Linked DNA regions of Homo sapiens: regions 2, 3 and 4 are each linked to region 1. The links come from fine-mapping of genetic effects on gene expression. A gene starts in region 1. Each other region holds a variant in brackets. All regions are shown on one strand. Distances are between the middles of the regions.

Region 1 (7,656 bases):
ATATAAGGAAGTTTATAAATCCTCAATTTCTATGGAATCTTGAAAAACAAAAACTTTTAGAAAAAAGAGGCCATAAGAAGACAGATAAGTTTTAATTTCAAATTTTATTTTTTAAAAAACTCATACCCTACTCCTTAGAAGCAGAGAGTAGTGAAATGAAAAAAGAAAAAATAGTGCCAGCCCGTGCTCTTCAAATATCATACTAAAATACAGTCATCAAGATCACAGAAATTCTCCTTGACACAATTTTATAGTGCTCAAATAACTACATGAAATAAGACTCTTGTTCTTCAGAAATTTTTCAATTAATGTCTCAGTACAGGAAGATAGATCACATTTTGCAGAAAGTGTCATGAAAGAATAACACAGGGCTTTAGTATCTCCACACAGTCTGCCCATGCCATTAGAAACCAACAAAATGGTTTATTATCTTCTTGGTTCCTTTCCCTATCTCATCCCAAAGTTTGCATCTATGAGCTCTAAATGTAATAACAGTAATTTCTACCATTTACTGAGCCCTTTCCATGTGCCTTATATTATCTTTTTCAATCCTCACACTGAGGATGTCTTATGGATGAGCAAAGTTAGGCACAGGACAAATAAGAAACTTGCTCAAGGTCATATGCTGCTATTGAGTGAGAGAGCTAAGTTATATTCCAACTCCAGAGCCAGTGCTCTTACTACTAAGCTGTTTATATTCGATAAAACTTATTTACACCATGAAAACTGCCCATAATCACCTACCACCTTCTAACTACAAGATTCTAGGTGCCTTGAGCATTTATTTTTGCCTTTCCAGGCTAATTACATACTCACAGAACTTTAATGGGTGAAAGAATCTAAACTCCTAAGAAAGTTAATATTATGGCTAAGAAAACGGAGGTCCAGAGAAGTTAAGTGTTTTGTCCAGGATTACAACGCTGGTTTGTGACAGCCAGCACTAAAACACAACTCTTGATTCCCAGGAGTGATCTTCCCACTACAATGAAGCCTTGCATCTTATGAAGCTCTTGCTGAAGCCCATACTCTACCCTCCACACAAATAACAAAGCTTATTTTGCCAACTTCCACAGCCTATGATAGCTTCCACGACAGCATTCATATGCAGACAAAACACATTCTTTCATTTCAACAAATAAACAGACACATCACTATACGCTAAGGCAGTGAATGAACCCAAATATGTATCATAATTTTGGCCCTTAATTTTATTATAGAAACATAAACATATTAATTGTAATAAGTGACAAGTGCTATAATAGCCATGTGAACAACGTGTTCTGAAAGCACACAGAGAGGAGTAGATATTTTAGCCTGGATAAAGAATGAGGACTGGGGTTTTGACAAGATGCATTTGAGGCAGGGCAGAGGCAGAAGTGTAATGGTGCTTAGAAAGTAGTAGGCAGCCGGGGACGGTGGCTCACGCCTGTAATCCTAGCACTTTGGGAGGCCGAGGCGGGCGGATCACCTGAGGTCGGGAGTTCAAGACCAGCCTGACCAACATGGAGAAACCCTGTCTCTACTAAAAATACAAAATTAGCCGGGCATGGTGGCGTATGCCTGTAAACCCAGCTACTACGGGAGGCTGAGGCAGGAGAATCGCTTGAACCCGGGAGGGGGAGGTTGCAGTGAGCCGAGATCGCGCTATTGCACTCCAGCCTGGGCAAAAGGGGCGAAACTCCGTCTCAAAAAAAAAAGAAAGTAGTAGGCAAAATGCTCTCATTTCTACCAGTGACTGTTAAAATAAAAAACAATACTAAATATGGGCTCAGAAGACCTGAGTTCAAGTCTAGGCTGAGACTCATGTGACTGTGAACAATTTCAATATCTTCATCTGTGAAATGTGGATACTAATACTGACCTGCCTACCTCACAAGATTTTTGTGGGGGCCAAATTATTTGAAAGTACTTAAAAACTTCAAAGTCCTGTATAAACATAAGTTATTTTCTTACGTTTTCACTTCTAGGCAACCCTGTGGGTCCTTCCCCTAAACGCTGTCTCATAAAAAATTCGCCCTTCAGGATGAAAATACTCCAATGACATCATTCATATGTTCCTTAGGAGATATTAAATAGTTAACATTAATGCCTTCAGGTTGAAACGCCAAGCCTCTTTCTATTGAAATAAATACATGCGTGTGTGTTTTTAACTGCTTAAGCGCTGATACTGACTTCTAGTCAATGCTTACCATAAATATATTTAAAACTAGTACCACATGAAGGTTTTTTGGAAATTTTGTCAGAAATTCCATTCTATTTTATAGTATGCTGTCAAGCAACTAACTCAAGAAGAGACTGCAAGTAGCAATCACTTTGATCCCAACTAGTTCTGTATTAGCTCTAGATACAACCAAATATATATACTGGACCCTAAAAACAGAACTGTTGGAGTACAAGCATGCACGCGAATGCAGTCAGTAGACAAATCCACTGCAAAGTGCAATGAGTTTCTCATTCTAAAATACTTGAAGGGCACAACCAGACCCCTCCTATAAATTAAAGAACACTCTCATTTCCTTTGAAGTTTGAAAGAGTAGACTTTATAACCCTGTCTCCTTTTCCAATCGCTCTTTAAACTCCATCCAGGCCCCATTTTGTTCCACCGTAAACCCGACTTCTTAGCTACTCCTTGGATGATCAGCCAAGTAAAGTTGCATCGAACCGTAACAGTCAAAAGAAGGACAGGATAAGGACCAGGGGAGCAGAAGTCCTCCCGCCACTCCAGGCCAGTGGCTGTTTTACCTTCGCAGTACAACTTCCCGTTTTCCCCCTCTTACCTTGTACACTTTCCCAAAGGCTCCGTCGCCCAGTTCTCCTATAATCTCCCAAAAGTCTTCGGGGTTCAGGTCCCTCTTCACGTGTTCGTACTGCTTCTTCTTCTTCTCGCTCCCCAACTTGAAGATCTTACGGAAATTGAAGAAGGACATTTTTCCTCCCAACACAGAGTTCCTTGCACTTAAGGACTAAAAACAATAAAAGGCAAAGTTTCTCTTCCCTGCTCTCCCGCGCGAGCCCGGCTGGCGGCGGCGGGCGCGGCGTCCCTCGGCCCCCGCAGCTCCGGCCGGGCGGTCCCGGGAGAAGGCGGGGCGGCGACCCGGGCTCCGGCCCGCGGTGGGGGTGCTGCGCGAGCGGCCCCTCCGCCGAGCCCGGCCCGCGAGCCGCGCGGTGGGCGCCTCGCCTCCGGCCCACCCTCCGGGAGCGGCACCTGCCCGCAAGCTCGCTCCCACCCGGCCTGATCCGACGGGTCCGAGCGGTCAGGACTCCCGCGGCGGCGGCTTAGGCCCGTGTCACGGCGAGTCTCCAGGGGCGGCGGCCACTCTGGGAGAGAGAAGCGGCCGGCGGCCTCGGAGGCGGGCAGTCGAGAAGCCGAGCCCTCCCGCCTCGGGCCGCGAGCCTAGGGTCTCCTCCGCCGCCGTCCGCTCCCGCGGCGCAAGGCCCGCGCGTCCCCTCGGGTCTGGGGCGCCGCCGCCGCCGCCTGTCTCCCTCCCCAGCCCACACAGCCTCGGCCTGGAGCGCGCGCCGACGCCGACTCCGTAGCGCGCCCGCGCGCTTTCCCGGCTGCGCGCCCGCCCGGTCACGCGCCCTGCTCACCGCGCGCTCGCGTGGGGGCGTCCCCTCTGGCCCCGCGCACGCGCGCTACGTCCCTCAGACTGGCTGCCCCCGAGGGTTCGCGTGAGCGGAGCACGGGGCTCGGGGTGCGGGGGGCTGGTGTGATGGACGCATTTGTTCTTCGGTCCCTGACGATTGTTTCTCATTTGCCCTCCAAGCCCCAAATCCTGTCAGTCCACGGCCTTGATGGAGCGGCCCCCGTGGGACGACCCTGTTGATTGTGCTAGCGGATGTTGTCTCCATTCTGGATCTGGGAAAAACTGTGGAGTGAAAGCCGGACCTGTTAGGGTTGGGACCTGAAAGCGGACTTTTTCGCTCTCAGACGGGCCCCAGGTACAGTGAGAGGGGAGTTTGTGTGGTGGTTGTGAGCTTGAGCTTTGGAGAGAGAGATCTGTGACCTTGGGCAGGTGACCTCTCCGAGCCTCGGTTTCCTCGCCGTAAAATGAAGATCCTAATAGTCCCTACCAGAAGGTTGTGAATGAGACAATAGATGGAAGCCCTTTGCGCGGCCCCTGCACCCGTAAACGCTCAATCTTAGTTCTTACTCTTGTTGTTTTAAGTGTGCAGGCAAGATAGACACAGATACATAAAAACTGTTTAAGACCACTTCTCTTTTTTTTCTTTCTTTCTTTTTTTTTTTTTTTTTTTTTTTTTGAGACGGAGTCTCGATCTGTCGCCCAGGCTGGAGTGCAGTGGCGCGAACTAGGCTCACCGCAAGCTCCGCCTCCCGGCTTCACGCTATTCTCCTGCCTCAGCCTCCCGAGTAGCTGGGACTACAGGCGCCCGCCACCACGCCCCGCTAATTTTTTTGTATTTTTAGTAGAGACGGGGTTTCACCGTGTTAGCCAGGATGGTCTCGATCTCCTGACCTCGTGATCCGCCCGCCTCGGCCTCCCAAAGTACTGGCGTGAGCCACCGCGCCGGGCCCCCACTTCTCAACTGATGACTGCGACACTCCCTTGAGGGTAAAACTAACTTCTGGCCACCTCCACAACTGTAAACCTGGTGTCACTCTTGGTGACTCCACCTCAGCTAAGGCCCCCACTTCCTGATCTGCCTCCAGCCCCCTTGGGCAGCACTCCCTGGTGGGGCAGTGTGGACGTTGGCTGGAATCCGTCAGGTGGTGACCTACCTTCCCCTCCTCCACCAGACGGGAGCTCTTTCAGGCCAGTGGTTTGTTGTTCATCAAGATATCCAAGTACCCGGCAACATTCCTGGCATATAATAGGAAGGCAGATCTGGTGAATGAATGAATGAATGGCGGTATCTGGAGCAGAGACAATGTATGTATATATTGCTATTTATATAATGTCTGCCCCCCCAGTCATTTTGCCCTTCAGCCCCAAAATGGCATAGCAAAACCCCCCTTCCAGTAAGACGCTTAAGATGATTCAATTCCTTGAGATCCTTCTATTTTTTTAAGTGTTATTGCAATATATTGATATACAATAAACTGTACATATTTAAAGTGTGCATTTGGTTTTTTTGCTAGTACTTGTTTGCTTTTTTTTAAAATTATACTTTAAGTTCTGGGATACACATGCAGAACGTGCAGGTTTGTTACATAGGTATACACGTGCCATGGTGGTTTGCTGCAAGTGTGCACTTTTATATGTTTTGACAAATGTATAGACCTGTGAAAACAATACTATAATTATTTGTAATTATTATCATTTATGGAGAAAATGAAATGCTTAAAAAATAAAATTAAATTAAAAGTACTATAATTCTACTATCCAGACACAACCATTGATAAGAACTTATATTTCAAAACAGGATTTTTTTGGTTGTGCATTAACTTTTTTCAACATGGTTGAGGTTGTATTACATAAAAAGGTTTGCATCCTGCACTTCGCATATTTCAATACAATTAATAATTGTTCTCTTCCATTATGAGATATTTAGATTATAATTCCTCTGTTTTTAATAAAATACGGATAAATATCTTTGTACACAAATCTTTTTCCACATATTTGATTATTTCCTTAGGATAAATTGCCAAAAGTAGATTTCGGTCAATGGGTATATGTCTGTTTCCTTATTTTGTTCTTTTCAAAATAGAAAAGACTTTACTATTTTGTCAATTAAAAGATAGTGTATTACTGGCTGGGTGGGGTGGCTCACACCTATAATCCCAGGCTGAGGTGGGAGGATTTCTTGAGCCCAGGAATTTGAGACCAGACTGGGCAACATGGCGAGATCACATCTACCAAAAATTAAAAACAGAAAAATTAGCTGGGCATGGTGGCACTCACCTGTGGTCTCAGCTACTGGGGAGGCTGAGGCAGGAGGATCACTTGGGCCCAAGAGGATGAGGCTGCAGTGAGCCATGTTTGTGCCACTGCACGTCAGCCTGGGCAACAGAGCTAGAACTTGTCTCGAAGAAAAAATAAAAATGAAAGATAGTATATTTTTGTTGTAAATAATTCAAATAATACAGAAATTATAAACTAGGAAGCTGTCTATAGTTCTGTCCTCCTTCCTTCCCCCCTACTCATAGTTACCCTCGACCTAACCACTGTTAAAAGTTAAGCCTGTGATGATGGATATGTTTATGTAATAGGCAGTGGTGATGTACAGTTATCACCCAGCTCATCTAGTTATATACATTAAGTATGAGCAGCTTATTGTATGTCAATCATAATTCAATAAGTGGTTTTTAAAAAGTCACTAGCAAAGCAAAGATAAAGTTCTGACACCATTAAGAAATAGAAATAGGCTGGGCACGGGGGCTCACACCTGTAATCCCAGCAATTTGAGAGGCTGAGGTGGGTGGATCACCTCAGGTCAGGAGTTTGAGATGAGCATGGCCAACATGGCAATACCCCGTCTCTAACAAAAATACAAAAATTAGCCGGGTGTGGTGTCATGCATCTGTAATCCCAGCTACTCGGGAGGCTGAGGCAGGAGAATCGCTTGAACCTGGGAGGCGGAGGTTGCAGTGACCTGAGATCGTGCCACTGCACTTCACCTGGGCGACAGAGCTAGACCCTGTCTCAAAAAAAAAAAAAAAGAAATAGAAATATTATCATAAATTTTTTCATATATTATGAAAAAAAGAAATGGAAATGAGCCTCTTGTAAAAGCTTTTCCTTTTAATAACATAATACATGGCCAAATAAAAAAAGTTAAGCCCATGAGCATGAGAGAATTTTGGGGGACAATAAAAAAGGGTTTTATAACTAGATTATGGTGATGATTTTACACTTAGAATGGGTGAATTATATGCTTTGTAAATTATACCTCAATAAAGCTACTTTGAAAAAGTTAGGCCTATATATGTTTTTTTCTGTGTGTATGTATGTGTATGTGTGTATATATATATATATATAAATATATATATATATATATTTTTTAAGATGAAGTTTCCGTCTGTCGCCAAGGCTGGAGTGCAGTGGTGTGATCTCGGCTCACTGCAACCTCCACCACCTGGGTTCAAGCAATTCTCCTCCTCAGCCTCTTGAGTAGCTGGGATCACAGGCGCACACCACCAAGCCCGGCTAATTTTTTGTATTTTTAGTAGAGACAGGGTTTTGCCATGTTGGCCAGGCTGGCCCTAAACTCCTGACCTCAAGTATTCTGCCCACCTCGGCCTCCCGAAGTGCTGGGATTACAGGTGTTAGCCACTGCACCTGGCCGCATGTATATCTGTTAAGATATAAAACTGGCATCATCCAATACAGATCGTTGACATCTTTCCAAGCCATCCCAAATAGATCTGTCTAATCCTTTTTTAATAGCTGCACAGAGTTCTAGTGTCTAACTATACCATAATTTATTTAAGCATTTCTGTATTGACAGGCATGACAGGCATCTAGGTAGTTTCCAATTTTTTTGTCATCATAAACAATTCCACAGTTAGTGTGCATATACAAGCATCTTTGTGTATTTGTCTGATTATATTCCCTGAAGACACAATTCAAGAAGTGGAATTGATGAGTCAAAGATCATATTAAAAATGTTTTTGCTCTGTATTGCCTAACTGGCCTCTAAAAAGATTGGTGGCCAAACATGGTGGCTCATGCCTCTAATCTCAGCGCTTTGGGA
Region 2 (7,656 bases), 88 kb after region 1:
TATAAAATATAGTCATCTTGGGAATGGGATTTGGCATAAATGTTGTTGGCTCCCTTCTGTCCACTATGTCCTTGGTGTACAATGACTTTGATCTCAGCCATGACACAACAAGAAAACCCTCCCTGTTGAGCTCCTGGCTGGACTGTGCGTTGTTCGCAGAGCAGAATGGGGAGGAAACAGTGTTGGCAGCTTAACTGATGTGTGTGGTTGGAGTCTCTTCCATGGCAAAGGGACACCACAGGGTAGTGAACATTCAGGAACTGAGGGGCATATGGCCTGATCACACAGTTCTAAGCTTTTCAAAACTTCAGGTTATCAGAGACCTTCCTGTGGGCCTCTCTTGCTGGCTAAGAACCGGTTTAGGGGAGTAGTTCTCCCTGGATGAGTGCTTACAGTTTCTGTGGCTCAGTTACCAGCAGTGGGGTTGAGACCTGGGTCGATGCTCTTTACAGGCCTGCCCAGAGATGGGAATAAACAGGGATCCACAGCGTGACTATGTGTTTGTCATTTTCCTTTTATTTCCTTGGGAATCGAAAGGTGTCCCAGTACATTTCCCTGCACTTACAGAGGTGCATGACTAAATACATTGTCCCTCGATGCCCCTGAAGATCACGGAGGCAGTCAGCCAATTGCCTGGCAGGTGGTAGATGTTATTTTCAGGGTTGCCGCTGAGTGTGCAGGATGTGCTGACACCATCCAGACAAAGACTCGGTATGTGCCCAGACAGGTGATGGAGTCATGCTTTTGCTCAGAATGACAAGGTAAAGGAAAAACATCTGAGGTATGTTGTAGGCCTGTTCTGACAGCAAAATGACAAATCCAGCCAGCAAAAATAAAGTGTGGAGAAAGATTTGGAGTTAATTACAGTCATTTCACAGAAGGCACTGCCTTCGTCTGCTGCATTTGCTCTTGATGTGATAAGCTCTTCGTGGCTCAGCTGGAGATCCTTTAGGCCTGGAGAGTTGCTCCTCTCTCCGTGGAAACAGGACAGTCTTTATACGCAGAAGTCCGCTGCAGCTCGATACGTCAGGCTGAGAGCTAGAACCAGTAGATTGCCTCCTGTCATAGACTTTTGTAATGATGCAAACCTTTGCTGATTTCTAACAGTGATTATGTAGTGGCTGCCCTGCATCTTCTCTGTGTACAGAAGGGTCCCTAGCATAGAGTCTGCCTGGAATGATGTCCTGGGCAGTTCTTCCTTGAGGTCAGCAGCTGTTCCACGTTGAATGCATCTGATTAGTGGGGCTGCCCAGGAAGGAGTTCAGAATCAGAAGGTAAAAAGGGCATACCCTTGCCTATAGCAACTCTGCTCTTAGGGGTTTATCTCAAGGAGATGGCTACACAAGTGTGAAAGGATGGTTGCACAAGGTGTTCATTGCTGTATAATCTAGAATTCTATATTGGGGAAAATACCTATAGGGAAAAAGTTAATTACGGTTCTTGGGCACAATGAAATACTATGCAGCTATGAAAAAAATGATGAAAGCAGACAGACAGTGTTGCCATGGCACACTGTCCCTAGTAGATTTAGTGGGAAGTAGATAGAGTTATAGATCTGTTTCTATAGTATAACACCATTATCTACAGCTCCCTGTGTGTATGTATATATCCGTAGAGAGAGTGTATATTTCTGCATGGAGGTCTTTATAAATGTAGCACATGTACATATATATATATATACACACACACAGTCGACCACTCCCTTCTCCTGGAAGTACTTTCCGCGTTTGGCTTTCAGGACACCAAGCTCTCTGGTTGCTCCTTCTCAGGTTCCTTTGTTCAGTGCTCTGCCTCCCTGAGGACTCAGTCCCAGACCTCTTTTCTATCTGGCTTGCTCACTGGGGTGTCTCCAGCAGCCACATGGATTATACCATCTACATGCTGTCTAACACCTCAGTTTAAACCCAGAATGGGCCTCTTCCCTGAACTGCAGACCCCTATATTCAGTTTGCTACTGACATCTCCACTTAGGTCTCTAATGGACATCTCAGATTTCACAGGCCCAAAGCCAGGCTCCCAATTACTCCTGACCCCAGGCTTGCTCCTGATAGTGACATGAGGCAGCCAAATGCCTAGGCAGAGAGGGGAGGGTCCCAAATGAAACCCCACGTTCAAGCAAAGATCAGCCTGAAGGCTAAAAGACCAGATTGCTGGTCCTGGATGAAACCCACCACGCAGAGTGGGAACTTCTGTTCCTGTTTGCCCACCCTTTCCCAATTGTTCTTTCTGAATAACGCCTTAACCAATCGAATGTTGCCTTTTCCAGTAATACCTACAGCCTGCCCCTCCCCCCATTCTGAGCCCATAAAAAGACCCAGACTCCCCCATATTAAGGGGACTTTCCTGCCTTTGGGTAGGGGGACCACCCCCACGTCTCCTCTCTGTTGAAAACTGTTTCATCACTCAATAAAACTCCCAGCTTTGCTCACTCTTCCACTGTCAGCACATTCTCATTCTTCTTTGGTGCTGGGCAAGAACTCAACCAGTGTGGAAGCCATACTTGGCCCAGGCGGGTGAAGTGGGCGGGCCGTCTCCTGCAGCAGGTAGCATGGTCAAGCGAGGCCCAGGTGGGCCGTCACCAGCCAGAGGTCCCTGGCTTGCAAAGTGACCGAGAAAAAAATCCTGTGCCACTCCTTTGGAAAATGTCCCTGATTCAGGAAGAGGTAGCTCCATCCAGTTGCTCAAACCAAATCCATTGGCTTCTTTCTTTCTATCATACCTCACATCCAATCTGTCTGCAAGTCTTTTGGCTCTACCTTCAGAATATCTCCAGAATCTTAACTGCTTCACCCTCCTCCCCGGCCTCCTCAGTCCTCTCTGCTTCCGCCCTGGCCCCTCTTGGGCTGTTCACAGCACAGCAGCTGTTGCCACCCTGTTAATGCTCCCACTCTCCTACAGCCTT[C/T]GGTCTTGCCCCAGGTAGGAGCCTGAGGCTGCACAGAGGTCAGCACGGCCCCGCTTACCCTGCCCTCCCAGCCCAGCCGCACGGGCCTTGCACACATGCCTCGGCATATTCCTGCCTTAGGGCTGGTGCTCCTGCTATTTCCTCTTCCCAGGTAACCATGTGAAGTGCCTCCCTCTGCCCTCTTTCCAGCCTTTACTTGAGTGTCACCTTCTCAGTGAGGCCTGCCCTCATTCCTCTTTCGCTGTTTGCAACCCATCTCCTGTCCCCCTTCCCAGAACTCCCTTTCCTACTTCGTTTTTCTTCACAGTACTTGATACTGCCTAACACACTCCATGGTTTCTTACTTGCCCTGTTTATTATTTTCCCCCAATAGACAGAATGTTCCATGATGGCAGAATTCTCTGTTTTGTTTCCTTCCATGTCCCCAGCACCTAGAACAGTGCCTGACGCATCTCCTAAGCAATACGACCAATAAGTATGTGTCTGGCTGCCTTCCGGCTGCCAGTGTCTGCCTCTTTCCTAGGGGCAGTGGTTGCGGGGGTGCTTTCTCACATGTCTTAGTAGGCTGTGCAGGCTGGAAGTGCTCAGAAGTCACACCCCCAGGGAGCAGCCTCAGCCAACAGCACCTTGGCTGTAAATGCCCCAGCTCCCTCGCCCTCAGGTAAGCATTGCTGAGGCACACGTTCCATACTCTTTTCCACAGTTCCTCCGTGGGACTGAGCACCACCCAGCCACCCACAGGAGCAGCTAACCTGATAACCACCAGCCTCACCCTCCCTGCCTTACTTCCCCGCTCCCCTTTACCACATGCTGACCTCCCAGATGCATTTCTTGCTTTCCGGTCTCTGTCTCAGGATTGGCTCCTGGATGAACACAAACTAACACTATGTTCACAAATATATTTGGGAAATGCTGGATGAATAATTATACACATCAGACAGATTACTAGAAATTCTCACCAAAGGGATGCACATGTTACCTCTGCATGGTGAGATCTCAGGTGCTTTTTACCCCACATAGCTATCCTTTGGCATTTTTATAATTAGCAAGTGCTCACTCTTCCACTGTCAGTACATTCTCATTCTTCTTGGGCGCTGGACAAGAATTCAACCGGTGTGTAAGCCAGACTCGGCCCGGGCAGTCTCAAACTCCTGACTCCTTATATAATTTCTACAAAAATTATAAAGCTATTTCCCACTCCCCACCCCACATTCATGTAACCTGAAGCATGAGTAAACCAAGAATGAGGTAGGCCTCTGTCTTCTAAGCAACATCAGAACTCTAAGAACATGAGGGACTCTTAGAAAACTCTCTGGAGCTAACCACAGCTGGGTCACTGCTCATGTACTGAAGACCAGCCAGAGGGTTCCCCTGAAAAGGAGGGAAACTGAGCAAACATTCTCCAGTTCTCTTAGTGTGCACATGTTTCAGGAGGTGTGAACCCCACATGTAGCTTGTGTAGGCAAGAAGACAAATAGTGCTACTGTCTGGTCAAGGATTTGTTTGAAGAGCCATGATTATGCCCATATGGTAAGCCACCAGTGCTCCCCATCCCTGTAAGACACTTCTTTCTCATTATTTTCTCCTCTGATGGTGTGCCAGGATGCTGGCCAAGAGAAGCCAAGTGGAAAGAAGGCTGTTCAGTGACAAGGAACCTAAGACTTAGTGCCAAGGACTGAAACCAAGTAAACTTGTAATTTTCCATGATGGAAACATCTACACTTTCTCATTAGTGGCCTCTACAGCAGTTGCCCCAAAGAAGCGTCTCATTGTTTTTTTACTACATTTATGTGAAGCATACAGGCAAACTCAGAAAGACTGTGATAAGGCTCGCCAGAGATGCCTGCACAGGTGCTGGGGGAAAAGCAGGACCATCCTGAAGGGAGATGGTGTCTGTGGACAAAGAACTCTGCAGTGGTTCTTATTTGCATGATTTCTGCTGGTGGAGGCTGTAAATGTGAGCTCAAACTCCCACATAAGTGAGTTTTCATTGTAATCCAGAATGTTTTTAAATCACCCTACTTCTATTGAACTTGCACTATCATCTGTTAACCTCTACTGTATTTATTAAATAAACCTGAATAGGTAAATCACAGTACAGCAAAAGGTTCTGTGTTCCCCAGAATTCTAATCAAACTCCAAATTCCTGAAAAGGCTCTAGTCCTTTCCTATATGTCAAATTTAAATGATAAGTTTTCATTTTGGAACATAAAGAGGGATTTTGAAGACCACAGCATAGCCCTGGGTTTTTGCATAGAGATAATAAACAGACAATCTCTTTTCAGACTGATTTGAGAAAATGTCAGTGTGAATTGGTGAAAAATCTGGGTTGGAAATAGTGCTGTTGTATTACTTCAGGTCTACCCAATGGTCTTTATTAAACCTGAAATACCACGAAGGAACAGGTTTCTGCTCTTAGGGAATTTGCTTTAATAAGAATTAATTGTGTACCAGTTATTAGTATCATTTGATTATTATGTATTTATCATTTAATATTTAGGTGATGTAAAAGTACTTCAACGCAAGAGAATTGAAAACATGGCCACACAAACACTTGTAAGCAAATGTTCACAGCAGCATTATTCCTAATAACCAAAAAGTAGCAACAACCCAAATGTCCATCAGCCAATTAATGGATAAACAAAAGGTGGGCTATCCATACAATGCAATATTACTCAATGAAGTACTGATATATGCTAAAGCATGGTGAACCTTGAAGAAATTAAGTGCAAGAAGCTAGACACAAAAGGCCACATATTGTATGATTCCATTTATATAAAATGTCCAGAAAATAGGCACATACACAGAGAAGAAGTAGATGAGGCTGGGTGCAGTGGCTCACGCCTGTAATCCCAGCACTTTCAAAGGCCAAGGTGGGCAGATCACCTGAGGTCAGGAGTTCAAGACCAACCTGGCCATGGCTAAACCCTGTATCAACTAAAAAGTACAAAAGTTAGCCAGGCGTGCTGGTGGGCACCTGTAATTCCAGCTACTCGGGAGACTGAGGCAGGGAGAATTGCTTGAACCCGGGAGGCAGAGGTTGCAGTGAGCCAAGGTCATGCTACTGAACTCCAGCCTGGGTGACAAAGCGAGACTCTGTCTCAAAAAAAAAAAGTAGATGGTGTGGCCAGGCATGGGGAGGGTGGGGATTGGGTGGTACAGGGCTCCTTTTGGGGTTAATGGACGTGTTCTGGAATTAGATAGTGGTGATGTGTGCACGACTCTGTGAACAGACTCAGAATTATGGGCTAGGTTGGGATTCCTCACATCATGGTGTCTGGGTTTCCAGGGCAGGCTTTCCAAGAGATAGCAAGATAGCAAGAGCCACACGGAAGCCACATGGCCCTTTTTCTGTAGCCCCAGAAGCCACAGCCTCACTTCCATGGCCTTCTAATTGTTGAGGCTATCACAGTCCCATGCAGGTTCGAGAGGAGAGGAATAAACTCCACCTCTTGATGGGGAGTAATGAGGTTCCAGAAGGGCATATAGGTCCGGGAATATTACCCTGGCCACATTGGAAAATACAGTCTCTCACAGATATCTTTCAGCTTTTATATAAATACAGCATCATTATTTAAAGAGCTAGTCTTAAAAATACCAAAAAAGTACAAAGAAGGGGAAAGAATGGTCTACCACTTCCCAAATACCGTGTGTATGTATGTGTGTATATATATGTGTATATACATATCTCTCTCTATATATATAAGTATGTGTGTATATATGTGTGTGTGTGTGTGTGTGTATATATATTTAGGTGATGTATGTATACATACATATAGAGAGAGAGAGAGAGAGAGAGAGAGACGGAGTTTTACTCTTGTTGCCCAGGCTGGAGTGCAGTGGCATGATCTCGCCTCACCGCAACCTCCACCTCCCGGCTTCAAGCAATTCTCCTGCCTCGGCCTCCCGAGTAGCTGGGATTTCAGGCATGTGCCACCATGCCCGGCTAATTTTGTGTTTTTAGTAGAGATGGGGTTTCTCTATGTTGGTCAGGCTGGTCTCGAACTCCCGACCTCAGGTGATCGGCCCGCCTCAGCCTCCCAAAGTGCTGGGATTACAGGTGTGAGCCACTGTGCCCAGCTTACTGTGTATATTTTTAAGATTATATATATATTGTTAGGAAAATAACCATGTTAACAATATTTTTGTGTATCCTTCCAAAAAAAAGTCAGCGTTTTATATGCACTTCACATTTTTATTAATGCTATATTTTGGAAGTCTTTTTTTCTTTTTCACTTTAGCATGCAAAATCAGCATCTTTTAAAATGGTGACATAATTCCATCGTATTGCTGTTCCATAATGCACTTAGCCAGGGCCCTATTAAAAAACATTTAATTGGTTTCCAATTTGTTGCTATTGCAACCAATTCTGCAGGAAACATTTTTCTTTTCTTGGTATATGTTTAAAGTATGTTTGTATGGTAAATTTCTAGCAATGGAACTGCCAGGAAAAGGGGCATGAGCTTTTTAAAATTTGCATAGGCACTAACAAATTACCCAGTAAAAAGACTGATCCATCGTACACTCCTATCAATGATTTATGCGTCTACTGTTTACCCACGAGCTCACCCACAGTTTGTATTATCAGTATTTTTAGTCCATGTCCATCTGATAGGTGAAAATGATTTCTGGTTTCTGTTTGCATTTATGTTTTTTTAGTATGAGTAGTGTTGAGCATCTGTTCATCATGGGAGCCTTTAGATAAAGTTCTACCCTGGACAGTAGCCATTGCTTCCAGCAGGGGCTACAGACGG
Region 3 (6,872 bases), 66 kb before region 1:
CCCATGGCCTGGGTGGGTCCTGCTAGTGCATCCTCTCCTCTCCAGGGGATGACGTGCGTCAGTACCTACGTCAGTACTTGATGGGCCCTCGGGGTCCGCCAGGGCCACCAGGAGCCAGTGGAGATGGGTCCCTCCTGTCTTTGGACTATGCAGAGCTGAGTAGTCGCATTCTCAGCTACATGTCGAGTAAGTGTCTGCAGGAGGGGTGGTTGGGAAGGGCCTGGGATGACTGGGATGAGGACTCGCAGCGTGAACTTCCCTGTGATTGCCCCACTGACCCCCACCTGCCAGACTGCACCAACCCCAGCAATGAGCAGTGCTCAGAGCCGTTCAAACCTGTGAGCCTGGAGCAGGTCAAGAAGCATGGCAAGGAAAGCCAAAACGGGGGTCTCAGGCACTGTCTCGTGTGGAGTCTACATACAACTCTCTCTCTCTCACACACACTCCCATACACACACACCCATACTCACACTCCCATACACACACACACTCACTTCCATACACACACACCCATACTCACACTCCCATACACCCATACACACACATATACACACACTCCCATACACACACACTCCCATACACACACACTCCCATACACACTCCCATACACATACTCCCATACACACACTCCTATACACACACTTCCATACTCAGACACACCCATACACACTCACATATGCATACACACACGCATTCCCATAAACACACTCCCATACTCCTGTACTCACACTCCCATACACTCCCATACACACACACTCATACACACTCCCATACACACGCTCCCATACACTCCAGTACTCACGCACACTCCCATACACTCCCATACGCACACTCCGATACACTCCCATACACACACACACTCACTCCCATACACACATACTCATACACACACACACACAGAATGAAGCACACAGGCACACTGGACCTGCTTCTCCGGCCCCGTGGGCCCCTCCGTTCCTCCTTTGGGCTCCTCCTCTCTGCCTCTCTTCCTGCCACCATCTCTTTTCTTTCTTGGACCCCACTTCTGTCCAAACCTCTTCTGTATCCGACCTCCTCTCTGACAGGTGTTTCCATCTGCCTCCCCCTGCCTGATCTGAATCCATCACCTCCCTAGGTTCTGGGATCAGCATTGGGCTTCCTGGTCCCCCGGGGCCCCCTGGCTTGCCGGGAACCTCCTATGAGGAGCTCCTCTCCTTGCTGCGAGGTAAGGCCCAGCAGGGGACATCTGTCCAACTGGTTGGGGAGGAAGCAGAGTCCCTTGGCCCAGGCCAGGACTGACTCCGTGCCCTCCCTTGGTGTCTCAGGGTCTGAATTCAGAGGCATCGTTGGACCCCCAGGTCCCCCGGGTCCACCAGGGATCCCAGGCAATGTGTGGTCCAGCATCAGCGTGGAGGACCTCTCGTCTTACTTACATAGTAGGGCACTGTGGAGTGGGATGGGGAGGGCAGGGGATGCAGCCGGGCCTTGGGGGCTCCCATGGGCTTTAGCAAGGGCAGTCTAAGTGCTCCTGGAGCCTGTACAGTGCTGGGTGCAGGGCCCTGGAGAGCGCCACATGTGCTGGCAAGGGGCCTTCAGCCGTGGCAGGGACAGAGGTGGGGAGAGATGGCTTTCCCAGGCGCAGCCCGGTGTGTGATTAGGGCCGACCTGGGGCTCCACCTCTCAGTGACTGGAGGGCTGAGTTGAATGAGGCTCAGAATTGGGAGTGGGAGAGCCTGACGGGAACAGCCATTCCTGGATGATGTCAGGAAACAGCAGGCTCTGGCCTCCTGCTTTTCTCTCCTCCCATCACCCGGGAGGCCCAGCCTCATCCCCTCCTTTCAGGTGGGGCCCACAGCGCCCCGAGCACAGGCTGGGAATTCAGCTTCCTCCGCAGCACTACCCCGACCTTTCTTTCTCTTCCTTCTGCCCAGCTGCCGGCTTGTCATTCATCCCAGGCCCTCCAGGACCTCCTGGTCCCCCAGGGCCTCGAGGGCCCCCGGGTGTCTCAGGAGCCCTGGCAACCTATGCAGCTGAAAACAGCGACAGCTTCCGGAGCGAGCTGATCAGCTACCTCACAAGTAGGTGCCCCGACGGTGATGCCCCACCAGGCACCCCGCAGGCCTTGCTTTTCCCTGTAAGTGGGGCAGGGAGGCACTTAAAGGGACAGGAAGGCCACACGAGAGCCACTGGTGGGGTAAGCCCGGTTTCCTTCCACACCAAAATTCTCCCACTCGGGTACAAGAACCCTGAAGTTCACTTCTGGTCTCTCAGGGGCATTGACACCCTGGGAGAGACTCCCTAACTCCCAAGTCTTTCTCTCCACCGAGATCTGAGCTCCCACTCATGCAGCTTCTCACCCTGCAGGTCCTGATGTGCGCAGCTTCATTGTTGGCCCCCCAGGCCCTCCTGGGCCGCAGGGACCCCCTGGGGACAGCCGCCTCCTGTCCACGGATGCCTCCCACAGTCGGGGTAGCAGCTCCTCCTCACACAGCTCATCTGTCAGGCGGGGCAGCTCCTACAGCTCTTCCATGAGCACAGGAGGAGGTGGTGCAGGCTCCCTGGGTGCAGGCGGTGCCTTTGGTGAAGCTGCAGGAGACAGGGGTCCCTATGGCACTGACATCGGCCCAGGCGGAGGCTATGGGGCAGCAGCAGAAGGCGGCATGTATGCTGGCAATGGCGGACTATTGGGAGCTGACTTTGCTGGAGATCTGGATTACAATGAGCTGGCTGTGAGGGTGTCAGAGAGCATGCAGCGTAAGTGGGGACATTTAGGCCTTGGTGCTGGGGGGAAGGAGCGTGGGAGCATCTCCAGACTGGCTTTCTTGTTTGTGGAACCCCCAGGCTGTGAAGACAGAATCAAGCAGGCAGGGGCTGGAGGGGACAGGCAGCCCCAGCCTAGCTCTCAGCCTACTCAGCTTAAGGAGCCCCAGTCCTGGGACCCGAGCTGTGGGGAACAGAGCACGCTGGGGGCTTTGTACTTTGTTTTCCCAACACCTAGCTCGTTCTGGGTCCCAGATGAGTCATATGACCATGCTGGATTTTCTGCTGGGGCCGAGAGAAGGATGTTGGCTAAGAGTCCTTTCCCCG[C/T]GCAGCTTAACGGCACAGTTACGCAGTCAACAAGCTTTTGATGCCGGCCCACAGCAGGAAGAGACCTGTGCCAGTCACACAGTGGAATACAAAGGAAGTTGGAGGGCTTCACCCTTGCTGCGGCTTGATCTAGTTCAACTGCTTTGGGAGTTTGACACTCGGAGGGCACTGTGCTCCTGCTGAAGAGGGTACTGGGAGATCCCTGCTTCCTGTGCCCAAGCTCTGGTGTTTTACAGGTCAGGGCCTACTGCAAGGGATGGCCTACACTGTCCAGGGCCCACCAGGCCAGCCTGGGCCACAGGGGCCACCCGGCATCAGCAAGGTCTTCTCTGCCTACAGCAACGTGACTGCGGACCTCATGGACTTCTTCCAAAGTAAGGGCATCCAACTGCTTTCCCAGCACCTGCCTCACTGCATAGGTTCCCACGGGTCTGCTCCAGAGACACCAGTCTCATGAGAAATCTCCAGTTATTAACATTTGAGATGCTCAAAATTAGACAAATTCTATAAATTCTGAACTTTGTTTCCTCTTACACGTCCAAACTCCATCACTATCTCTCTGTGTTACTCTGAACAAATGACTTGATGTCCCAAGCTTCCAGGTGATCAAGACTCTAAGGCCAGTGTTTCCTTGCTTTTGCAGCTTATGGAGCCATTCAAGGACCCCCTGGGCAAAAAGGAGAGATGGGCACTCCAGGACCCAAAGGTAAGTGGTGGCAGAGAGCCAGTCCCTGGATCCTGTGTTAACACCCACCTCGTACTGAAAAGCAGCTCCTGTGCTGGTGCCACACCGGCTACCTGTGCCCTCAGTCCCCAGACTCATGTATTACTTAGTTACGCCCCATTTTTCCTTCCAGGTGACAGGGGCCCTGCTGGGCCACCAGGTCATCCTGGGCCACCTGGCCCTCGAGGACACAAGGGAGAAAAAGGAGACAAAGGTAAGTGTTGACTGCTCCACGTTTTGCATGTTCTGGAGGGCTGCAAGGCTGACGCTCATTAGAGAAGCAGGTGATTTGTTCCAGAGCAAGCCTGAGAAATTCAGGCAAATGCCAATTACTCCAGGCAGACACTGCCAAAAGCAGAATTTGCATAACAATCCCATTCACAGTGAGGAAGAAAAGGAGAGTGTCAAAGCAGGGAGGAAAAGGAGAACCAAGCTGGTGTTGAAATGGGGCAAACAAGTTAAATAAATGTAGTCTTACAAAAGATTTCACCTTTGAAGCCATCTTTGCAGTAGTCACGGTTGCCATAATTGCCCAAGCCAAGATCCCCACAGGCCACAAGATATGTTTTAACTTCCTACTGATCTTCTAACTTTCAGGTGACCAAGTCTATGCTGGGCGGAGAAGGAGAAGAAGTATTGCTGTCAAGCCGTGAGCTAGCCATGGCAGGACAGCTCCTGGACCAGGTCTCATAATGCATGTGGCACTTAGGTCCAAGGTCTCCAGAGGGTGAAAGCTGGAGTCTGTCAATGTCCTACTGAGACAGCACAGCCAACCTAGCTAGCAACATTTGTTTTAGTCTGAACAATATATACTTATAGAATTCAGTCAAAGATACACAATCTGAAACAGCTTCATGGGGTGGACTCTAACAGTAGTTGCAATGTTTTAGAATGAGACTTACTTCTCTGCTATCTAGATCTGAACTCCTTGGCTTCTTTACTTAGTTCAAGCCCCAGCCTAGGAAAGCCAGTTACATAAAAGTTGGCTCAGGAGTCTTAGAGCTTTACCTAAATATGAGCCCAGAAAACGGAGGATGGGGGTGGGGCGCCTTCCTGGAGGTGACACTTGATGGGGGTGTGTTCTGGTTACTGTTCTAAGGCTGTGCCATCAGCTCCTTCCTCCCCTGTTCATTCTGCATTCTCTAGTCAGTTGGCTAAGAAGTGACTCTTGCAACTAAAAAAATTAAGAAATTCACTTCCCCTCTAGGAGGTGATGATAGGGTTTCTAATGGTTATATGTATATCACATTCCCATTTGCTTAGAAAGTCTGATTGTAGCTATGATTGTCCGTAGGCCCATACTAGAGTTCATGGATATGTTATACTGAACCAGGCCAGAGCAAACAGAAAAAGAAGGTTGAGGGCAATGGACAAGGAAGGAATAAAGGGAGAAGAGGGAAAACAGAAAACCTGATGCTGGGGACACAGCATCAGCTCAAGACGTCACCCTCCATTCTGCACTCAGAAAATGGCACTTGGGGGACTGGGCGCAGTTGGTCTTTAACCACTTTTCAATGTCTAAAAACATTTGTTTGTGGTCTATAAGATGAAACATCATTTCAATCGTAAAATTTCCCATTAAAGAAGTTTTTTTTTCTAATATCATGTTTAATGTGATTCGTCTGACCAAAGAAAGATTAAAAAATAGTCTGGGTTAATTGGGTCTGATTCTAACACTGTTTATTACAAACACAAGAAAACAAAAGTGGTTGTATTTTGGGGCATAGCTTCTGGTATTTCATTCAATCCCTGAGGTCTTCAAAGGCAAATCTTTAGATACCTGCAACTATGAACTCAATCTGGGGATTTTACAAAGCACATGAAAGTTTTCCCCAAGCATAAGTTATTTGAAATAAACATGCAACAAATGAGCAAGAAGATTACTTGCAATTAGGTAGTGCTTTATCCTGGGGCAATGGAATTATGATTGTAGGGCAAGTAATATATGGAATATAGAAACTTCTATTAAAGAAAAATGTACAAATCTCAAATGCCCCAAAGAAATGCACAGTAAAATCAGACACTCCAATTGAGAAGAGACTCTACTTAGCCACTTTGTGAATTTGTTACAAGTTGTGACTCTCAAATTGCTGGATAATTAAAAATGGGATTAAATTGCATCTATTTCTACACCACTACTCTTCTAAAAAGACTTTATTTTCCATAAGGTCTCTGCTGAGTATCTCATATTATCCCAGAAAAAACACTCCACTTGTTTCCTCTATATCAAACAACCGCTAACGGCAACAACCAGTCAAGCACTACACACTCTACGTGGTCTTTTTGCCTCTTTTATTATATCCTGATAATTGCCTGCTATGAATTAATGAGAATTTTTTAAAAATAAGGCTGGGCGCGGTGGCTCATGCCTGTAATCCCAGAATTTCGGGAGGCCGAGGCGGGCAGATTGCTTAAGCCCAGGAGTTCGAGACCAGCCTGAGCAACATGGCAAAACCCCATCTCTACTAAAAATACAAAAAAATTAGCCGGCATGGTGGCGGGCACCTGTGATCCCAGCTACTCGGGAGGCTGAGGCTGAAGAATCACTTGAACCCAGGAGGTGAAGGTTGCAGTGAGCTGAGAACGTGCCACTGCACTCCAGCCGGCAAGACTCCATCTCAAAAAATAAAACAAAAATAAAATAAAAATTAGTTCATACAGCCTCCAGATTTCAAACAACTTGAGTTTTACTAAGCAAAACTATTGTGTATAATAAAGGAATTGTGCTTTTTAAATAATTTTTTTTCAAAAGAATTCATTAGTTTTACCCAAAGGCTGAATTTTTTACTTTTTAATTGTAGCTTTTACACTTATTAAAAGTAACTTCCAAAAAAAGGGGGGAAAAAGATGTTTTGACCCTTTAAAAAAAAGTAGCTTTAGGGGTTCAAGTATTATATCCCCTTTAATAGTGATCCTTATCTTGATTAATCAAGACATAGGAGTTTTTTCCTTGTTACTAGATCTACCTAAGATACCCAAAGTCTTCATCAAGTTTTAGCTCAAGTAAAATAGGGTACAAGTCCAAACTTACTACCTTCTCTGGACAAAACTCAGAAAGAGGATGGGCAGATATGAGGTTATG
Region 4 (7,656 bases), 740 kb before region 1:
TTCAACTTCTTCTGGAGCTTTCCTTGGAGACCACTGTTCATTGCCCAATATGACATTCCTGCTATGCAGGGACACAGTGAGGTGGCCTGGAAGGATCTCCAGGAGATGAATGAATTCCATGTGACGCATTCCCAGATCCAAACACCCAACCCAAATCTCCCCCTCTACCTCACTATTTCCAACTCCCTCTCTACCCGCCTCCTCCCAAACACACAGAAGGTGGATGCAATAAAAAAGGAAAGAAGTAACCTGGGAAAGCTTCCAGGGAGTGTGAGGCTGGAGAATGAGTGTGAGAGACTGGAGGGCTAGACAGAATTGCTGTCTAACCAAAAGCAAAAGCGAGGAGATGGGCCAGGTGGCCAAGGCAGAGGAGGAAAAGAAGTGGCTCCACTGCACGCTAATGAGCCTCCATCATAATGTCATAATAGCAGGCGCAGCCCTCTTGCCACTTTCCCTTTTGCAATAGTACTCTGTTTTCCTGAAGTCTCTAGCAATTAAAAAACAAAATCTATATGCCTCAAAAGGGCTTTGTGATTGCCTGAGGAACAGGAGCAAAGCATGAGCTGGCAAAGGCACCCAGTGCAGTCTGAGGCCTGGAAGAAATATTATCCAAAGGAAAGAGAGATTAAAATATGGCTGCTAAAAGGAATCCCAAGTTAATGCCAGAGGCCAAAAAACTGATGATGGGGGGGAAGAAATGTGGCCAGCCCAGAGCTAGCAAGTTTTGGGAGATTTACAGAAAAACAGGATTTATGACCCAACTCCCCAGCCCAGATCCAAACATGAATTTTTGCTGGCTATATGCACCAAACAAGTTATCAGAAGCAATTTAGCAATCAGCTAAGCGAAGATACATGGACTTTCTCTTCTTTACCAACTTCTTTGGCCTAACATCTCTCATTGTATGATGACAGCTGGAAGAATAGGGAACCTCACTTACCTTGCTAGTCTGGGTCTCTTGGGAGAAAGGAGGGCCAGGACTAAGGCTGGTAAAATTCTGTGCTTAATTGCAAGACTGTGGTGGCATGCAGTGCCATCAGGAAGGCTGCACCAGGTGACACTCATGCAGCCCATATTCATTCACAGCTGTGGGTGGGCTGATCCGGGGCACCAATTATCTAATTGCTGCTAATGTTCCGTATATTTACTCAGCTGCAAATTTGCAAGATGGGGCCTGACTCACAAGAAGGGGATAATAATGGGAGAGATATTTCCATTTGAAAATTCATGAATAAGCAGCAAGAGCCCTGTTTATTAAAATTCAGATGCAGATAAACAATGAGTGTAGTTCCAGGAATAATTGCAGGGTTTCCACAGTTACAGAAAACCAGCCCCTTTGTCAACACTTCATTGTTCTATTTATACCTTGAGAGATATTGCACTGAGTTTCTATAAATACAATGGAAACTCATTCATCTCAACCCCTCTCACTGTCAAGTCCAACCTTCTCTTCAATAAAAGATCTGCATCCCAAGTGTATCTGACATTAGGTCTCAAGACTGTCATGGGCAAATCCTTCCTAATATAAGGGATAAAGAACAGGCTTGGAGTGGGCTGGGGATGGGGGAAGGGAAGCAACAGGCATTCTATTCTGGTTTCGGAAATAGGCAGGAGGCAGATACATTTTAACTAGCTCTCAGCCTTTGAGTGTTAATCTCAGTGATTAAAGGCAGGTGAAACAAACTGCCCAGGGTATCTCAACCCCTGCATGGGATAGGATCTCATCGTTGATATTCATTTATATATTTTCCTTGAATGTGATTCAGGTCCTCCTTCTATGGATGTTGGCCACCTCTCTCCTATTATATGCAAACCTGCATTGTGGTGGTCCTGAAATCTACTTCGTTGATTCCCCCTAGCCCCAAAGTACCTGGAACTACACTTTACTACTCAGTGTTAATCAGAGAGTCTGGTTCAGTGAGGGTCTTTAGATCTCAATTACTACCAAAAAGTGCCCCCATAGCAGGTTCCTGTGCTGTCCCCAGATACAATTAATATTTATAAGAATATCACATTTTTAAGTATCTTACTGAATGGCTGACACTATGTATATTACTTTACATATAAAATCTAATTATCATACCAGCTCTGTGAAGGAAGTCCTATTATTCTCTTTCTTATGGACTAAACCATGAAACACTAAGGTAAGTTGCCTAGATATACAGCTAGTAAGTAGCAGAGCCAGATTTTGTACCCACAACTATTTGAAACTAGGAAACGTGCTCTTAGCCACTACATCAGTATGTTTTTCTGGCTCTTGGACTCAATTCCCACTGCTCCTTCTTGTGGATAAGCCTGACTGCCCTGTCTCTATGCGATGCCTCAGATAGCTCACACTTCTCTCCATTAACTTATTAATTTAAGCAACCCCCACTCCAATACCACACACATATGAAAAACTTTAGTCTCTGTCTCTCTCCACAGTCCCTAGATTGCAAGAGCTGACCTTGCAACCACAGCAATCTTCCACGTGCCCACACTTACGTTTAAAAGAAAAAATCATTTTTCTTCTCACGTTTAGAAGAAAAAGTCATTATAGACCTATAGCTTATAGATGTACATGTATACATTATGTATGTGTGCATATACATGTTTATGTAGGTATAAATAAAACACATAAATGTACATATGTGTATGTGTGTGTGCATAAGCTTCTTGTGAGTGCCTCCCTATAGGTAAGGTAAATTTATCCACAGGGAAGTGGGACTATACCAGGAGAGGGACACTGATGCATACATCGCACCCCTTACCATCTGACTTCCCATATGCTACGGTGGAACCAGGTTCATTAAAGTAGTTTACACATACTGAATTTTAATACAGATAGCTTCTTTCAGTAGTATATCTCTCAAGAAACTCTAGTCTCTGGCCCGGGCACAGTGGCTCACGCCTGTAATCCCAGCACTTTGGGAGGCCGAGGTGGGCGGATCACGAGGTCAAGAGATGGAGACCATCCTGGCCAACATGGTGAAAGCCTGTCTCTACTAAAAATACAAAAATCACCTGGGCGTGGTGGTGCACGCCTGTAGTCCCCAGCTACTCCGGAGGCTGAGACAGGAGAATCGCTTGAACCCGGGAGGCAGAGGGTGCAGTGAGCTGAGATGGTGCCACTGCACTCCAGTCTGGCCACAGAGCAAGACTCCTTCTCAAAAAAAAAAAAAAAAAAAAAAAAAGAAGAAGAAAAGAAACAAACAAACAAAAGAAACTCTAGTCTCCAAACATTTCACAGGTTTCAGAGCCAAAGAAGAGGAGCTTAAACAAGAAGGAATGGCAAAGAGGTCATCCAGGGAGCAAGGAGGGAGACTTTCATACTCACTCGTCAGCAACAGCTAGCAGCCTCGGCAAGAAATCTGCACCCTGTTATTGGAGAGAGATTTCTCTTCACAGTCTCATTTTGCAGACAGTGGTTAAGTTCTAGGCTTTTGACTCGGGCCCAGCACCCCTCTAGGTAGAGGAGATGGCCAATTACGAGTTCAAATCCAGTGGTCCTGAAGCTCATATCCCCAGAAGTTCTCGACTTCCTGGATCATTCTCACATTTATTTAACAAATTATTGAATATCCACTCGAACAGGCACTGGGCTAGCTCAATCTATGTTGCTCCCTTAACTTGTGCTCCACTGAGCTGCTGGATTAACTGGGATTCTCCATTGCTTCTGATGCCTACTTCATGCTACTCCTACCAGTCGGGTCACCTGTTATTCCATTCTCATATACACAAGCACTGCTTCTCCCACAACTGAGGTATGTGTTTACAGGAGCCAACCGTGTCCATTCTCAAAACCATTTATCATTGTCATTACATGTCATTATAATTACATTGTTTAATTAAGTAATATGTAAATCAACAGAAGATGAGTACCAATAAAAGCTTCTGTCAAAGTTTAGTTAAATGTTTTGCAAAGACCTGATAAAGGTAAGTCACTTAAAAATGTAGTTGAACCTAATTCGGTGTGAGTGGGAAAAGTATAAAATACTGGGAGTAGGGAGAATCTAGAGTCTTTAAATTGCTTTCCCAGTTGGTTTCTATTCCATGAAAAAAAAAATCGGGCACTGGAAATCATAGATGATGTATTATGGATGTGAGTTAAACAAGAAAGATAATCCGGAACTCTAATCAGCAGACCAATTAAAAAAAAAAAAAAAAAA[AC/C]GAAGGCCTGCCCATATCAAAAGATGAGCAAATAAATACACATCTCTAAACTTTAAGTTAAAATAATATGTCCAGGGCATTATGTATTTTTTAATGATTCCCCTAAAGTTCAGACAAATTTTTCAATTACCAAGAATTGGTCTCCACCATAAAATACAAATGACTACAATTTATTGAGACATGGGCTATAATAGACATATCTGGGGTTGGGAAATGAGGGAAGAGGGGGTTAAGGTGGAGCATTTGAACCAGACTTGTGGTGGAGGAGGAGAGAAGAAAACCTCCAGGAAGGAAAGGGCACCTGTGTACACTCTTAAAGAGGATGCAAGAGCTAGCAAGGCAAAGTAGAGGGGGAGAGTAGGCCAAGCACCAAAACAGCATCTATAAAGGCACATAGTGCATTTGGGGATCTGCAAATGAGTTGGTATGGCTGGAACACTGAACATAAGATGGCAAAGATGATCCTTTCCACAGTTGCTTGCATGTTTGCTATTTTACAGGCACGATGCAAGGATCTGCATGGATGGAACACACATTCCCTAGAGTACTAGGGAAAAATTGGTCCATTACACTTTACAAAACCTTTTCACATTCATTCTGCAGAAAGTCTATCTTCAGAAGGCTGTAAGCAGGTCTGCCTCTAATTTGTTGACCCCTTTACCCATCCCTACCCCATCCCCAGTTTCCCTCCTCACCCAGGACCCAAAGATCTCCCTCTGTAAATATTGTAGTTGAACCTGTAGAAGTCAGCTGGGGCATGGTGACTCATTCCTGTAATCCCAGCTTTTTGGGAGGCTGAAGCCAGAGGATTGCTTGAGCCCAGGAGTTTGAGACTAGCCTGGGCAACATAGGGAGATATCGTCCCTAAAAAATTAAAACAAACAAACAAAAATAGCTGGGCATGGTGGTGCACACCTGTAGTCCCAGCAACTCAGTAAGCTGAGGTGGGAGGATCACTTGAGTCTAGGAAGTCAAGGCTGCACTAAGCCATGATCGTGCCACTGCACTCCAGCCTGGGCGACAGTGAGAGACCCTGTCTAAAAAAAAAAAAAAAAAGTCATAGAAGGAAACTTGGATGAGCTATCAGGTCTGGCTGACAACAAATCCAAAACTGGCCAAAAGGCCTCAGAGTTTTAAATAACCATGTTATTCTCCCTCCTGTTCAGTGATATTTACTTCTAAACTGAAATGCTTATCCAACCACCCAAAGGCCACTGAAGTAGGTGACAGATTAGATTACCTGATACACTTCTACACCCTCCAAGAAATTTCCTAGTAATCACAGTCGCTGCTATTTTTTTCCAGCTGGTTGCTGACAATGTTTCAAAATGAATCCTCCTACACTCTAATTTTTACCCTTGACTAGCTGACTTTAATGGTAATCTCCTCAGGTTTGGAACCCTGATGGAGTCGAAAACCTCTCTGATTTCTTTCAGAAGTGAACTTTAGTAGAAAGCAGCTCTATAAGGCCACTTTTTTTTTTCTTCATTTCTTCTTAAAAAAAAAAAAAAAAACAGGATACATGTGCAGAATGTGCAGGTTTGTTACATAGGTATACGTGTGACATGGTGGTTTGATGCACCTATTTACCCATCCTCTAAGTTCCCTCCCCTCACCCCCCACCCTCCAGCAGGCCCCGGTGTATTGTTTCCCTCTCTGTGTCCATGTGTTTTCAATGTTCAACTCCTACTTATGAGTGAGAACATGCAGTGTTTGGTTTTCTGTTCCTGTGTTAGTTTGCTGAGGATGATGGCACTGATCATCAGAGAAATGCAAATCAAAACCACAATGACATACCATCTCACACCAGTCAGAATGGCAATTATTAAAAATTCAGGAAACAATAGATGCTGGCGAGGCTGTGCAGAAATAGGAATGCTTGTACACTGTTGTTGGGAACATAAATTAGTTCAACCATTGTGGAAGACAGTATGGCGATTCCTCGAGGATCTAGAACCAGAAATACCATTTGACCTATCAGGCCACTTTTAAACTTGGTTTTCATTCTTTCCCTGCCCTGGCCCTCAACCCGAATCATTTTATCTAAACTGCCATCCAACTGGCTTTCTTGAGACTTCAACTTCTTAATAAAATGACCAAAATTTCCCTTGGACTTTGGGATGCTATTTGTTTAAAATGGTCAGGAAAATCTAACTTCTTGTATAATCAATCGATTTGAAGTGTTCTCTCCCTTACATCAACAAATTTGATCACTTGAAAGTAAGCTCTATAAGGGTAGGCCTTTCCCTGTTTTGTTTGCCATTATTTCTCCAATGCCTAGCAAAAGCCAGGGCAGGAAGTATGTGCTCACTAAAGAGAAACTGAATGAATGAATGATCCTCACAACAACCCTGTGGAATGAGCAAGCTAGATATTCGTATAGTTGAAACCAGACTCAGTGAGATTAAGTGGTTTGCTCAGGGTCACCCAGTCTAGCACTCTATTATCATTTGTCTAGTGCCATTTCACTAGACCATGTACCTGAACCCCAGCACCAGAACAGGAAGATTTTTACAGTCTTTGCTTCTGAAGAACTAAAATCAGGCCCCTGAGTACAGTCCAAGGTTCATAGCTCTTAAGATGAAAATGCAAACATTGGAAATGGAGCTCTTGGAAACATCACTTAAAAACTGTATCCTGCCAGGCACGGTGGTTCACGCCTGTAATTCCAGCACTTTGGAAGGCCAAGGCAAGCGGATCACTTGAGGTCAGGAGTTTAAGACCAGCCTGGCCAACATGGTGAAACCCCATCTCTACTGAAAACATAAAAATTTGCCAGGCATGGTGGTGGGCAGGTACCTGTATTCCCAGCTACTCAGGAGGCTGAGGCAGCAGAATCACTTTAACTTGGGAGGCAGAGGTTGCAGTGAGCTGAAATCGTGCCACTGAACTGCAGCCTGGGCGACAAAGAGAGACTAGGTCTCAAAAAGTAATAGTGATATTAATTGTATCCTGTAACACAGTTCTGAAGGGAAAAGGAAGGGAACTGGATGGCAGCTGCAGAAACCATATGAAAACACAGTGTGTTTCCATTGTGCTCAAACACAGCGGTCCGCATAGACAGAATCCAACAGACTGTATACACCAGCAGTCTGCACACTACTGCCCATGAGCCAAGTCTGACCCTCCATCTGTTTCAGTAAATAAAGCTTTATTGGAACACAGGCCCACCCATTCATGTATGCATTGTGTATGGTTGCTTTCACACAATAGCAGAGTCCAGTAGCTCACCCGGTGGCCCACAAAACCAAAATATTTACAATATGCCCTTTTACAAAAGAAATTTACCAGCTCCTCACACAAACTCACATAATAACAACATGAGCATCAACAATAGCAGCCAAAATTAAATAAAATATTACTGATGTTCAGAGTGCTGGAAAGGATAATTTTTCTACCCAATACCGAAAAAAAAATCACAAAACAAATTTATTCAATACTTGATACCTGCTTAGAAGCCTCTTGTCAATAATATCTACTCTTGCCTGAACTCTTGAACCAGACAGC

The links.
Region 2: its variant is fine-mapped to the expression of SLK in whole blood (TOPMed, PIP above 0.99).
Region 3: its variant is fine-mapped to the expression of SLK in whole blood (TOPMed, PIP 0.91).
Region 4: its variant is fine-mapped to the expression of SLK in lymphoblastoid cells (TwinsUK, PIP 0.95).

The regions. Positions count from the first base shown.
Region 1 is chr10:103,963,017-103,970,672 of GRCh38, reverse strand. It overlaps SLK (STE20 like kinase), which reads right to left and starts at 3,533. Exons shown (of 19, transcript NM_014720.4): 1 at 2,778-3,533. The coding sequence starts at 2,927. It overlaps LOC102724351 (a long non-coding RNA gene), which reads left to right and starts at 3,628. Exons shown (of 5, transcript XR_007062282.1): 1 at 3,628-4,892. RefSeq lists silencers at 3,012-3,111, 3,122-3,171, 3,212-3,671.
Region 2 is chr10:103,874,910-103,882,565 of GRCh38, reverse strand. STN1 (STN1 subunit of CST complex) reads left to right here. Exons shown (of 10, transcript NM_024928.5): 10 at 1-4,997. Among named protein-coding and RNA genes, the nearest start is that of SH3PXD2A, 23 kb to the right of the region's middle. The variant C/T (reference allele first, on the strand shown) is at 2,903.
Region 3 is chr10:104,029,806-104,036,677 of GRCh38, reverse strand. COL17A1 (collagen type XVII alpha 1 chain) reads left to right here. Exons shown (of 56, transcript NM_000494.4): 48 at 46-186; 49 at 1,115-1,204; 50 at 1,305-1,415; 51 at 1,911-2,057; 52 at 2,344-2,733; 53 at 3,303-3,440; 54 at 3,710-3,772; 55 at 3,924-4,004; 56 at 4,388-5,392. The coding sequence ends at 4,443. Among named protein-coding and RNA genes, the nearest start is that of MIR936, 15 kb to the left of the region's middle. The variant C/T (reference allele first, on the strand shown) is at 3,067.
Region 4 is chr10:104,701,719-104,709,374 of GRCh38, reverse strand. All of the region lies in intron 1 of SORCS3 (sortilin related VPS10 domain containing receptor 3), which reads right to left. Among named protein-coding and RNA genes, the nearest start is that of SORCS3-AS1, 39 kb to the right of the region's middle. The variant AC/C (reference allele first, on the strand shown) is at 4,149.